Linked DNA regions of Homo sapiens: region 2 is linked to region 1. A link means that fine-mapping ties the variant in region 1 to the expression of a gene that starts in the linked region. Tissue or cell type: tibial nerve. Region 1 holds a variant in brackets; the other region holds the start of a gene. All regions are shown on one strand. Distances are between the middles of the regions.

The links. PIP is the estimated chance that this variant, and not a neighbour inherited with it, causes the effect.
Region 2: CELSR2 starts here. The variant in region 1 is fine-mapped to the expression of CELSR2 in tibial nerve (GTEx, PIP 0.99).

Annotation. Positions count from the first base shown.
Region 1 is chr1:109,294,501-109,299,759 of GRCh38, forward strand. MYBPHL (myosin binding protein H like) reads right to left here. Exons shown (of 9, transcript NM_001010985.3): 2 at 3,669-3,757; 3 at 2,922-3,117; 4 at 2,550-2,689; 5 at 2,283-2,442; 6 at 1,734-1,870; 7 at 611-797. Among named protein-coding and RNA genes, the nearest start is that of MYBPHL, 9.9 kb to the right of the region's middle. RefSeq lists an enhancer at 2,194-2,765. The variant C/A (reference allele first, on the strand shown) is at 2,616.
Region 2 is chr1:109,246,913-109,251,912 of GRCh38, forward strand. It overlaps CELSR2 (cadherin EGF LAG seven-pass G-type receptor 2), which reads left to right and starts at 2,627. Exons shown (of 34, transcript NM_001408.3): 1 at 2,627-5,000. The coding sequence starts at 3,168. RefSeq lists an enhancer at 1,944-2,664 and silencers at 2,666-2,725, 2,886-2,985, 4,084-4,274.

The sequences.
Region 1 (5,259 bases):
CAATGTCCCTACCCTCAAAATGCTTATAATTTAATAGGGAAACATATCTATAAATAGATAATTATAAAACAGTATGTTAAACACAATGATAGAGATCTGAACAAGGTGACAGGTATAGATAAGTGATTAAATACTTTAAGGAAGTAGAGAGGATATGCAATATTACCTATAAATAAACCGGAGGGGAAGTGAAATAAAGCCTGACAAACAGTTGCAGCTTTCCTAGGCTGAGTCAGAAGATTGCACAGCATAAAGAAAAATGAGCTGAGCGAGGACCCGGAGACCTGGGCTATTTCCACCAGTGCCAGGTGATCAACTAACTGACACTGGGAATCTTGGGCAAACCAGTTCCCTCCCTGTACTTTCGTCTTCTCATTTGCAAAATGGAAATAAGAATTCTTCCTATATTATTGAATTGTGATGGAGAGAAATGAGATAGTAGATAATTAAAATGTCTCCTCCAATACATCCTGATGATGACAGTGATGAAAGAGTCCAGCGGAGGAACCCCTTCTCCCCCTAGGCTTGCGTCTCTGTTCCCTGACTCTTCCACCGGTGGAGAGAGGAGGTGACTGGCACCCTAAGGCACTAGTTCTCCTCTTGCCCTTACCTTTCACATCCACCCGACAGTCCACAGATGCCTCCCCTAGGGGGTTCACCGCCTTGCAGGTATAGATGCCTCCATCAAAGGGACCCGGCTTGCGGATCTCTAGGGAGCAGATTCCCAGGTGAGTCAGGGCTCTGTACTTAGGGTTGCCTTGGATATCCATCTTGTTCTTCAGCCAGATGATCTTGGGCTGGAAGACAAAGATGAGGGAGGCAGCAAGGAGGGGCGAGGGTAAGAACCAATAGTCTTTCTGTGCTCAGTTTCTGGGACTCTGTCTATATAGAGATAATGGCTTTCTGGAAGGCTCCCTGTTCCTTATGTTGTGGGAAGGGTTTCCCCTTCCAGTGCCACCAGCAGTCCCCCAAGCTCCTTCTCTTGTTTGAAAACAGCACCTGAAACTTCATTTTCTTTACCAATATTTCTGACTGGAAGAAAACTGCTAACTTCCGTTCCGGGCTCTCAGGCAGCCCCTTTATGGATCAGAAGCACTGAGCATCAGGCTCACCTCTTGTGAACCATCCATATTCTGTTCCCACTGCTGACTTGTGAGTTGCCTCTGTCCCCTCTGGTTAGAGAGTAGCTTCTAGAGTGGGCTCTTGATATGCCCCTTCTGAGATGTTATCTCCATGTAGTCTTGCCCAGACTCAAAACCCAAAAGATTCTTGGTACAGGTTGTTAATGGTGTTTTCTGCTGTGTGTGGAGCATGATGACTAGATTGTAAATAGACAGAGAGCCTTGCTCAGGGTTGTGGCAAAAGGCTGAACTCTAGGCAGGTTGCATGTGCACGGCCCTGATGGGATGAGGTATGCATGGGAAGGAGAAACCACAGGGACTCTGTCACTCCTACCACAGAAACAACTTGAGGCGCATGCCTAATTGCCAGCAGGTCAGTAAGCAACACCTCCATATATGAGAAACAAACATTCAAAAGGAAATGTCATTCTCATCAGTCCGTCTTGGACTCCAAGCACCCCCCCGACTGTTCCTAAATACCGTGCTGTAGAAGAGGCAGATGGCGGTGATGGTAACAGATGTTATGTTACAGTGCTCTGCAACTCAGCTTAGGTTAGGACAGGCAGGAACAAGAAGCAGCTCAGCACAGTGCCCCCCAGAGCCCCCACTCACCCGGGGAGAGGCGCGGACACAGCAGAAGAGCTGGGTATTATAGCCGGTGACTGTAGTGCAGTCGGCCAGAGGCTGGGTAAACTTTGGGGCTTCAGAGAAGTCTCGTTGGGCAAACCCCTTGGTCTTGTAAACAGTAGCTGAGGGCACCAAGAGGGGCTGGCATGTAGCTTCTGAGATCCCAGCCCTCGTCGACTCTTTATCCTTAGTATTTTTTTTTTTTTTTGAGGTGGAGTCTCACTCTATTGCCCAGGCTGGAGTGCAGTGGCACGATCTCAGCTCACTGCAACCTCCAACTCCCAAGTTCAAGCAATTCTCCTGCCTTAGCCTCCTGAGTAGCTGGGAGTACAGGCGTGCACCACCATGCCTGGCTAATTTTTGTATTTTTAGTAGAGATGAGGTTTCACCATGTTGTCCAGGCTGGTCTTGAACTCCTGACCTCAGGTGATCCGCCTGCCTTGGCCTCCCAAAGTGCTGGAATTAGAGGCGTGAGCCACTGTGCCCGGCCTATCCTTAAGTCTTCCCAGCTCATGATCCCCATGCCTCCCTTACCTGCTTTCTGGATGTGGGCGAGGTCCGTAGTGATGGGGGCTGTTTCACTGAGTCCGCACTGGTTTTCAGCAAAGACACGGAAGGCATAGGAGTTGCCGATGATGAGGTCAGAGACGATGCAGCTGGTGCGGTGATAGTGCTCCAGCACCGTGAACCACAGCTGCGGGGCCGAACATGATGCCAGAAATCAGCCACCCCATGTGGAGCTACCAGAGGCCTGTCCCAACATGCCCTCTTCCACCCTCCTTCCTTCCCAGCTGGCCTCACCCCGGATTTTGTGTCAGCCTTCTGCACCGTGTATCCCAGAAGTGCTGTATTCCCCGTATCTTGGGG[C/A]GGTGTCCATTCCAGTGTAGCGCTGAAGCCCCAAACGTCCACCAGCTTAATACTCTGAGGAGGGCCTGGCCTCTCTGAAAGGGCAAAGCCATGGCAGTGGGCGTGGAACATCCCACATGCATTGAAGTCACTTCAGGAGTGCCCTAGCCCCTTTTTCTCCTCAGTTACCCCTCCTGCGCCCACCCTGTGTCCCAGACATGACGTGGGAGCCTTGCCGCAGCTTCCCCAGCTCTCTGAGCTGGCTCCTCTTCAGCCTGGAGAGGGAGTTCCTGAGGACCCCCCCATCTCCCACTTCCCCCACCGTACCAATCACCAGGATGTCAATGGTGGCGGTGGCCTCCAGCCCACCCAGCTGCACGCGGAGTTGGTAGCGACCTGAGTCAGCACGTTGGGCTTCTCGGATGAAGAGGATGGAGTCTTGCTCCCCATTCCGCACACTCACACGCCTGGTGTCCAAGGCACAGCCATCATGTGTCCAGATGGCTTGAGGTTTGGGCTTGCCCTGAGGAATGAGGGTAATGCTTTGAGCAGCCCCGAGAGGCTTCCTGACTCTCCCTGCTGCTGTAGGGGTCCTGTCCACCCCAGGTCCACAGGGAGGCTTGACTTGGAGCTGCACATTCCTTGAGTTAGAAGTTGGTGGACCCTCCCGGGGGCCTCCTCCTTTCAGCAACAGCCTAAGGATCTTGGGAAAGAGGGATGGCTTTGAGTCTCCCAATCTCTGAGAGCTTAGGTCATGAACACCCGGGGCAGCTGGGACCAATTGAATAGCCACTCAAACTCCCAAGAACCCTTCTAACTGCAAGCTCTGAGGCTTCTGTAGACTGAAGGGCATGGATTAGCCTCACACCATCTCATGGGTGCACACCCAGTCCTATCCAAACCCACCTTCAGGAGTGCAGAGGTCATTTGGCCTCAGACTTCTGGTGGTGTGACCCCTTCTATCCAAGGCTGGGAAGATTGCCCCTCTGCTAGCAGGACTCTTGGTATCTGTTTCCAAATCCAAAACCTGCACTGGCCCCAGACATGGACCCAGTATGGGGCTGGCATGATCACCTGGAATGGGATTAGTAGGTTCACTGTGTCCCCAACCTTCCGGATGTAGGTCTGCCTCAGGGCCCGAGGTAGCCAGATCTTGGGGTGCTCTGAGTGATGGAAAGAGAGAGAATAGGAGATGGATACTCAGAGAAAGTAAATCCTGCATCCAGCTGCCTGCTGTGGGTGAGTGGCCCAGGAATCGGTCACCAAATTAAGCCCTTCTTAGAGGGGAGGGGAAGAGTGCTCCCATCATCCTGCTGGGATTTGGGGATGAGGGGTTGGCTTAAGGAACACCCCGGGAAACATTAAAGTCTCAGCAGAAGGAACACTGGAGTGCGAGTCTGACAGTTCTCTTAATTTGTAACTCTCAAGTACTGACTTTCCATCATCTGGAGGCATTCCATCCTGATGGAGGCATTTTTATTTTTCTGTTTGTGTACAGACCAGCCTGGTCTGTGTGGTTTGTCTTTCCACCCTTTTCTACATTTGTCCTTAATACCATTCCTTTTATCAAGGCCACTTTCCATGTCAATCCTGACCTCCCAGTTAGGTGTGGGTCTCAGGAGAATGCTCTCCATTCTGCAGGCAGAGTCAACACCCTGACCTCCCAGCCGCCCACGGAGACAACACTGATGTCACTGCAGACAGAGCACGTGTCTGGGTCCCTTCCTCTGCATGGCCACTCTGCTCCCGGGCGCCTGCACAGTCTTCTTCCAGTTTGCAGAGGATCATTTTGTACAGATTCTGGGACAGATTAGGTCCACCACTCATTTCCCTTTGATCTCACAGGTCTGTCCCAGTGAGAAGTAGAGATTAGATGATGTGTATGGGCTTCCAGGATGAAGACAGGAAATGCTTGGAAAAGTGCTGAGTGTAGGTTTGGAGATTGACCAGGTATCATTTCTCTCCTCTTGGGATGCCTCACACTGTCTCAGCTGCCGAAGCACAAACATTCCACCTGCGTTCCCTCGGGGGCCTGGCTGAGACAGACACCATTTTCTGGCCTTTTCCTGGCTGCTGTCTCCTCCTTTCTCAGGCACAGGCAGTCGCCTGGCTGATATTATCTTCAGTAGAATGTGATAGTGCTTCAGTTCCCAACAACCCAGGATTCTTGCCACAGTTCATTCTTGGCAGTTGGAAGAACTTCACCCCTGGTACATTCCTGTGGCAAACAGCATGACTGCTCGATAGTGGATTCCAGACTCTTTGATAGCACACACTTCTGTGAAAATACTTCCCTGAGCATTCACTATGACATATGTATGTTTACTTATAGATGAACTGTTTAAATACATACATTACATAACACAAACATGTAAGTGACGCAACTGAAACAGAGCTTCTTCTGTGTCCTTCCTCCAGCTCAATCAGCAAGCATTGTCCAGAGAACTTCACTCTGAGTCTCCCCATGATAATCTCAAGGTCGCGAGACCTTTGCAAATGAAGATCAATGGCAATGTACAGTGCACACGGTCCGTTTGGTTTCTGCAGTTTCCTTCTGTGCTGTGTGGCTTATGTTTTCACCTGGGCTGTGCCTGTCTTAGACTGCACCTCAGGAATATGTGACGAGGGGACTTGATGGGCCTGAGTGCCCGTCCTCCCTGCCCTG
Region 2 (5,000 bases), 48 kb before region 1:
CCTGTTGTGTTGAAAGCCAGGGCCATGCCTTATCCAGGGGGTCCTCAGGAAGCAACCTGAGTAAGGAAATCCCACCAGAGCTAAAGGACAGCCGCAAGGCTAGCCAAGCAGGTTTCCTTCCTTCCCAGAGCCTCCACTGTGAAGTGGGAGGTTTGGACTAGAAGAACAATAAATTCTCTTTTAACAGACCCCAAGCCCTTGCTGCCCCTTGATAGCACCTAAAAGCTATGCAGAAGGGAGGCCTAAATGTCCCTTACACACAGGAGGGAGGTCCATAGGTTCCTTACAACTGGAAAGCTCCATGAAGCAGGCAGCCCTTCCCTGGGGATCAGGGAGGCCTCCACCAGGGCAACCCCTCCCTCATTTGAGACTCTCAGTGATGCATATGAAACTTGGAAATTTCCCTCCTGCTTTTGGGAGTTGGAAGTATCTGAGGAAGTGATGGGGAGAGAGCTCTGTCCTGTGCCCCCGGAGGGAGGACTGGGGAGGATTAAGGACTATTTGCCAAATGTGCTTGGGGATGAAGGAAAGGGTTCCTTGGATCCCCCAACCTATCTGCCTTTGGGTGGAAAGGCCACCCACCTGGAAGGGGCTTCTGAGCTCATGCCTTCCCTGGCAACCCCTGCCTCAAGGTGCAAGGCCCCAGAACCACCTTCCGTGATCCAGAGCCAGGGCTACTCTTTCCTCCCACCCAGAAAGCTTATTTTAGCAACAAAGGGAGCGAGATGAATGGAGAGTTGCAGCTTCTCCACGGGTTGGCTTGGGCCTTCACCAGAAATGAGAGTCTCATTACCCAACCCCAATTCAAAGGATAATTAACAGATGGTATAATTTCCAAGCATTCTCTGCACCACATGGCTATTAGGTGAAGAACAAAATGCCCACGCAGCCCCTAGATCCTTCCAAACTCCAGAGTCTGAGGAAGTCTAGAGAGGCAGAGCCCTGCGGAGGCGTGTAACCCACGCCTCCATCTCCAGAGCTGCCCTTGGCCTTGCTCAGAGGAAGAAAGCTCCTGTTTGGTCAAAGGGGAGGGCATTTCCTTGAGCCATGGGTCCTCCTCCTACTTCTATCCATCCTGCCAGGAGCACAGTCTAACCCTAATCTTTCTTGCTGTACCCAAGGCCCATCTCCTTTCCTGTTTCCCCAGGGGAAAAGAGAAAAGCTGATTTCTCATCCTTGGCCTCACTGTGTGGTCACACAGACACTCCTTGGGCCTGGGGCTGGGGGATCCTCTGCTGTGACCCAGTGAGAGTGGCACCACTGTGACCGGGGGCAGTGGTAGAAGGGAGCACCTGATCCAGTGCTTTTCAGATGGGTTCCTCCAGACCCTCAAGTTGCACAGAGCAGCCCAGGGATTTCTTGGTTGGGGGAGTGGTGGAGAGGGGCAAGGCCCTGACCCCCTCACTTCAACCCAGCAGCACTACTCATCTGTTCTATATTCTGGCCTTCCACTTCAGATTTCTTTTGAAGAAAAGAATTCTACTGCTAAATAAACATTTGAGAACCATTCACCTTATTCAATCCCCTCATTTTACAAAAAGGGACATTGAGGCACAGAATTTGAGCAAGGTCACATAGCTGTGGTGTTGGAGGCTGGGACCCAGGCCCAGGCATCCCCCCAGGCCAGGGCATCCCCCCAGGGACTACCTGACTGGGCCCCTGGCTGCTCCAGGATGTAGGGAAGCCTTTTCTGGGTCGCCTGCACGGCTCCTGCCTGGCTCTCCGTGTGGTCCAGCTTCATGTCTGGTCCTCTTGGAGAACCCCTGGAATCCTGCACACCCTCTCAAATGAAGCTGCCTTGGAGAGGGTCAGGAGCCCGGGTACCAGGTAGGCCTCCTCGCTGGTCACAAAACTGTGGCGGAAGGAGGGGGTAGCCGCAGGACATGGACAGGGAGGCAGGAGGGGATGAGAGGCCGCCTCTCTAGACAGGACCTCAGGGGGCAGTGTAAGCCCCTTGTCTAGAATCCAGGAAGCCTGTGTTAAAGCTAGGCTCCACCGCAGCCGGCCTCCGAATCTGGTGACAGTGTGTTTGCACCACCTGGCTTCCACCCACTCTGACCCTTCTAATTTACTTCCCTGGAAAAGCCCAAGTGGTGTCCAACATGAGGCTGGGGTCATTCTTCCAACAGCCCGACCCCAAGGGGCATGCTGGTCAGACAACAGCCTCGCTGGTGGGGTGGAGGGGACGGTAGGGAGCGAGTGGGCCCGGTGACTCATTGTGGGTGCTTCTCTGGGATTTTGGAGGCTTTGTTGTGTTGCTCAGGGCCCTTTTAACTCTGTCTGACCTATGGGAGGGGACAGCAACGAGGGCTTTTATGACTGGAATGAACTGGAAACTTGGCCTCTGAGAGCCCTTAAAATGTTTTGGAAACCTCTAGGCATACTTAGGGTACTTCCACCATGATTATCATCGGCTGTGTGGCTTCCGATCGCTAATTCGCACCGGGCATCTGGCGAGGCCGGCCTGGGGAAATTGGGATGGAGGGTCCTGCTGGAGGGAATCCTGGCGCTTTGGGCGGAGGAGTGCTCTGGGTGGGGCCCACCTCCTCCAGCGCGGCCGGCGTTGCCGCTTTAAGGCGGCCGCGGCGCGAGCAGGTCTATGGTAATGAGCCGCCGCCGCGACTCTGCAGAGCTCGCCCGCCCGCCGGGGAGGCGAGGGAGCGCGGGGCTGGGCCCGGGGCCGCGGCGACAGGCAGCAGCCGCGGCGGGGACGCGGGGCGCGAGCGGGCGGCGCGGGACCGTCGGGGGCCGCCGGGGCCGGGCCGGGGTCGGGGCGCACGGCTACGCGGGCGCAGGTGGGCGATCCCATAGGGGCGGAGGGGGCACCCCGGCTCCGGAACCCGGGGCCCGGCAAGGCCAGGGGCGCCGCGGGGCCCCCGGGCGCAGGTGGTGAGTGCCCGGAGCGCAGGTGGAGGCGCGGCGGCAGCCCGCGGTGCTCAGGGTGACCCGGGAGCGGGTCTGGCTCAGGGGGCAGTGGGAGCCCGGGCTCGTCGGAGGGTGCAGCGCGGGGTCCCGCCGAGCCATCCAGACGCAGGCCCCGCGGGGCGCACGGGAGGCCCCCGGGGACTGGCGCCCTGGCCCGGGCATGAGGCGCGGCGGGGCCGGCAGGAGCCGGAGGAGGAGCCGCCGCCGCCGTTGACCCGGCCGCCGGCCGGGAGCTGGGAGAGATGCGGAGCCCGGCCACCGGCGTCCCCCTCCCAACGCCGCCGCCGCCGCTGCTGCTGCTGTTGCTGCTGCTGCTGCCGCCGCCACTATTGGGAGACCAAGTGGGGCCCTGTCGTTCCTTGGGGTCCAGGGGACGAGGCTCTTCGGGGGCCTGCGCCCCCATGGGCTGGCTCTGTCCATCCTCAGCGTCGAACCTCTGGCTCTACACCAGCCGCTGCAGGGATGCGGGCACTGAGCTGACTGGCCACCTGGTACCCCACCACGATGGCCTGAGGGTTTGGTGTCCAGAATCCGAGGCCCATATTCCCCTACCACCAGCTCCTGAAGGCTGCCCCTGGAGCTGTCGCCTCCTGGGCATTGGAGGCCACCTTTCCCCACAGGGCAAGCTCACACTGCCCGAGGAGCACCCGTGCTTAAAGGCTCCACGGCTCAGATGCCAGTCCTGCAAGCTGGCACAGGCCCCCGGGCTCAGGGCAGGGGAAAGGTCACCAGAAGAGTCCCTGGGTGGGCGTCGGAAAAGGAATGTAAATACAGCCCCCCAGTTCCAGCCCCCCAGCTACCAGGCCACAGTGCCGGAGAACCAGCCAGCAGGCACCCCTGTTGCATCCCTGAGGGCCATCGACCCGGACGAGGGTGAGGCAGGTCGACTGGAGTACACCATGGATGCCCTCTTTGATAGCCGCTCCAACCAGTTCTTCTCCCTGGACCCAGTCACTGGTGCAGTAACCACAGCCGAGGAGCTGGATCGTGAGACCAAGAGCACCCACGTCTTCAGGGTCACGGCGCAGGACCACGGCATGCCCCGACGAAGTGCCCTGGCTACACTCACCATCTTGGTTACTGACACCAATGACCATGACCCTGTGTTCGAGCAGCAGGAGTACAAGGAGAGCCTCAGGGAGAACCTGGAGGTTGGCTATGAGGTGCTCACTGTCAGGGCCACGGATGGTGATGCCCCTCCCAATGCCAATATTCTGTACCGCCTGCTGGAGGGGTCTGGGGGCAGCCCCTCTGAAGTCTTTGAGATCGACCCTCGCTCTGGGGTGATCCGAACCCGTGGCCCTGTGGATCGGGAAGAGGTGGAATCCTACCAGCTGACGGTAGAGGCAAGTGACCAGGGTCGGGACCCGGGTCCTCGGAGTACCACAGCCGCTGTTTTCCTTTCTGTGGAGGATGACAATGATAATGCCCCCCAGTTTAGTGAGAAGCGCTATGTGGTCCAGGTGAGGGAGGATGTGACTCCAGGGGCCCCAGTACTCCGAGTCACAGCCTCGGATCGAGACAAGGGGAGCAATGCCGTGGTGCACTATAGCATCATGAGTGGCAATGCTCGGGGACAGTTTTATCTGGATGCCCAGACTGGAGCTCTGGATGTGGTGAGCCCTCTTGACTATGAGACGACCAAGGAGTACACCCTACGGGTGCGAGCACAGGATGGTGGCCGTCCCCCACTCTCTAATGTCTCTGGCTTGGTGACAGTACAGGTCCTGGATATCAACGACAATGCCCCCATCTTCGTCAGCACCCCTTTCCAGGCTACTGTCCTGGAGAGTGTCCCCTTAGGCTACCTGGTTCTCCATGTCCAGGCTATCGACGCTGATGCTGGTGACAATGCCCGCCTGGAATACCGCCTTGCTGGGGTGGGACATGACTTCCCCTTCACCATCAACAATGGCACAGGCTGGATCTCTGTGGCTGCTGAACTGGACCGGGAGGAAGTTGATTTCTACAGCTTTGGGGTAGAAGCTCGAGACCATGGCACTCCAGCACTCACTGCCTCGGCCAGTGTCAGCGTGACTGTCCTGGATGTCAACGACAACAATCCAACCTTTACC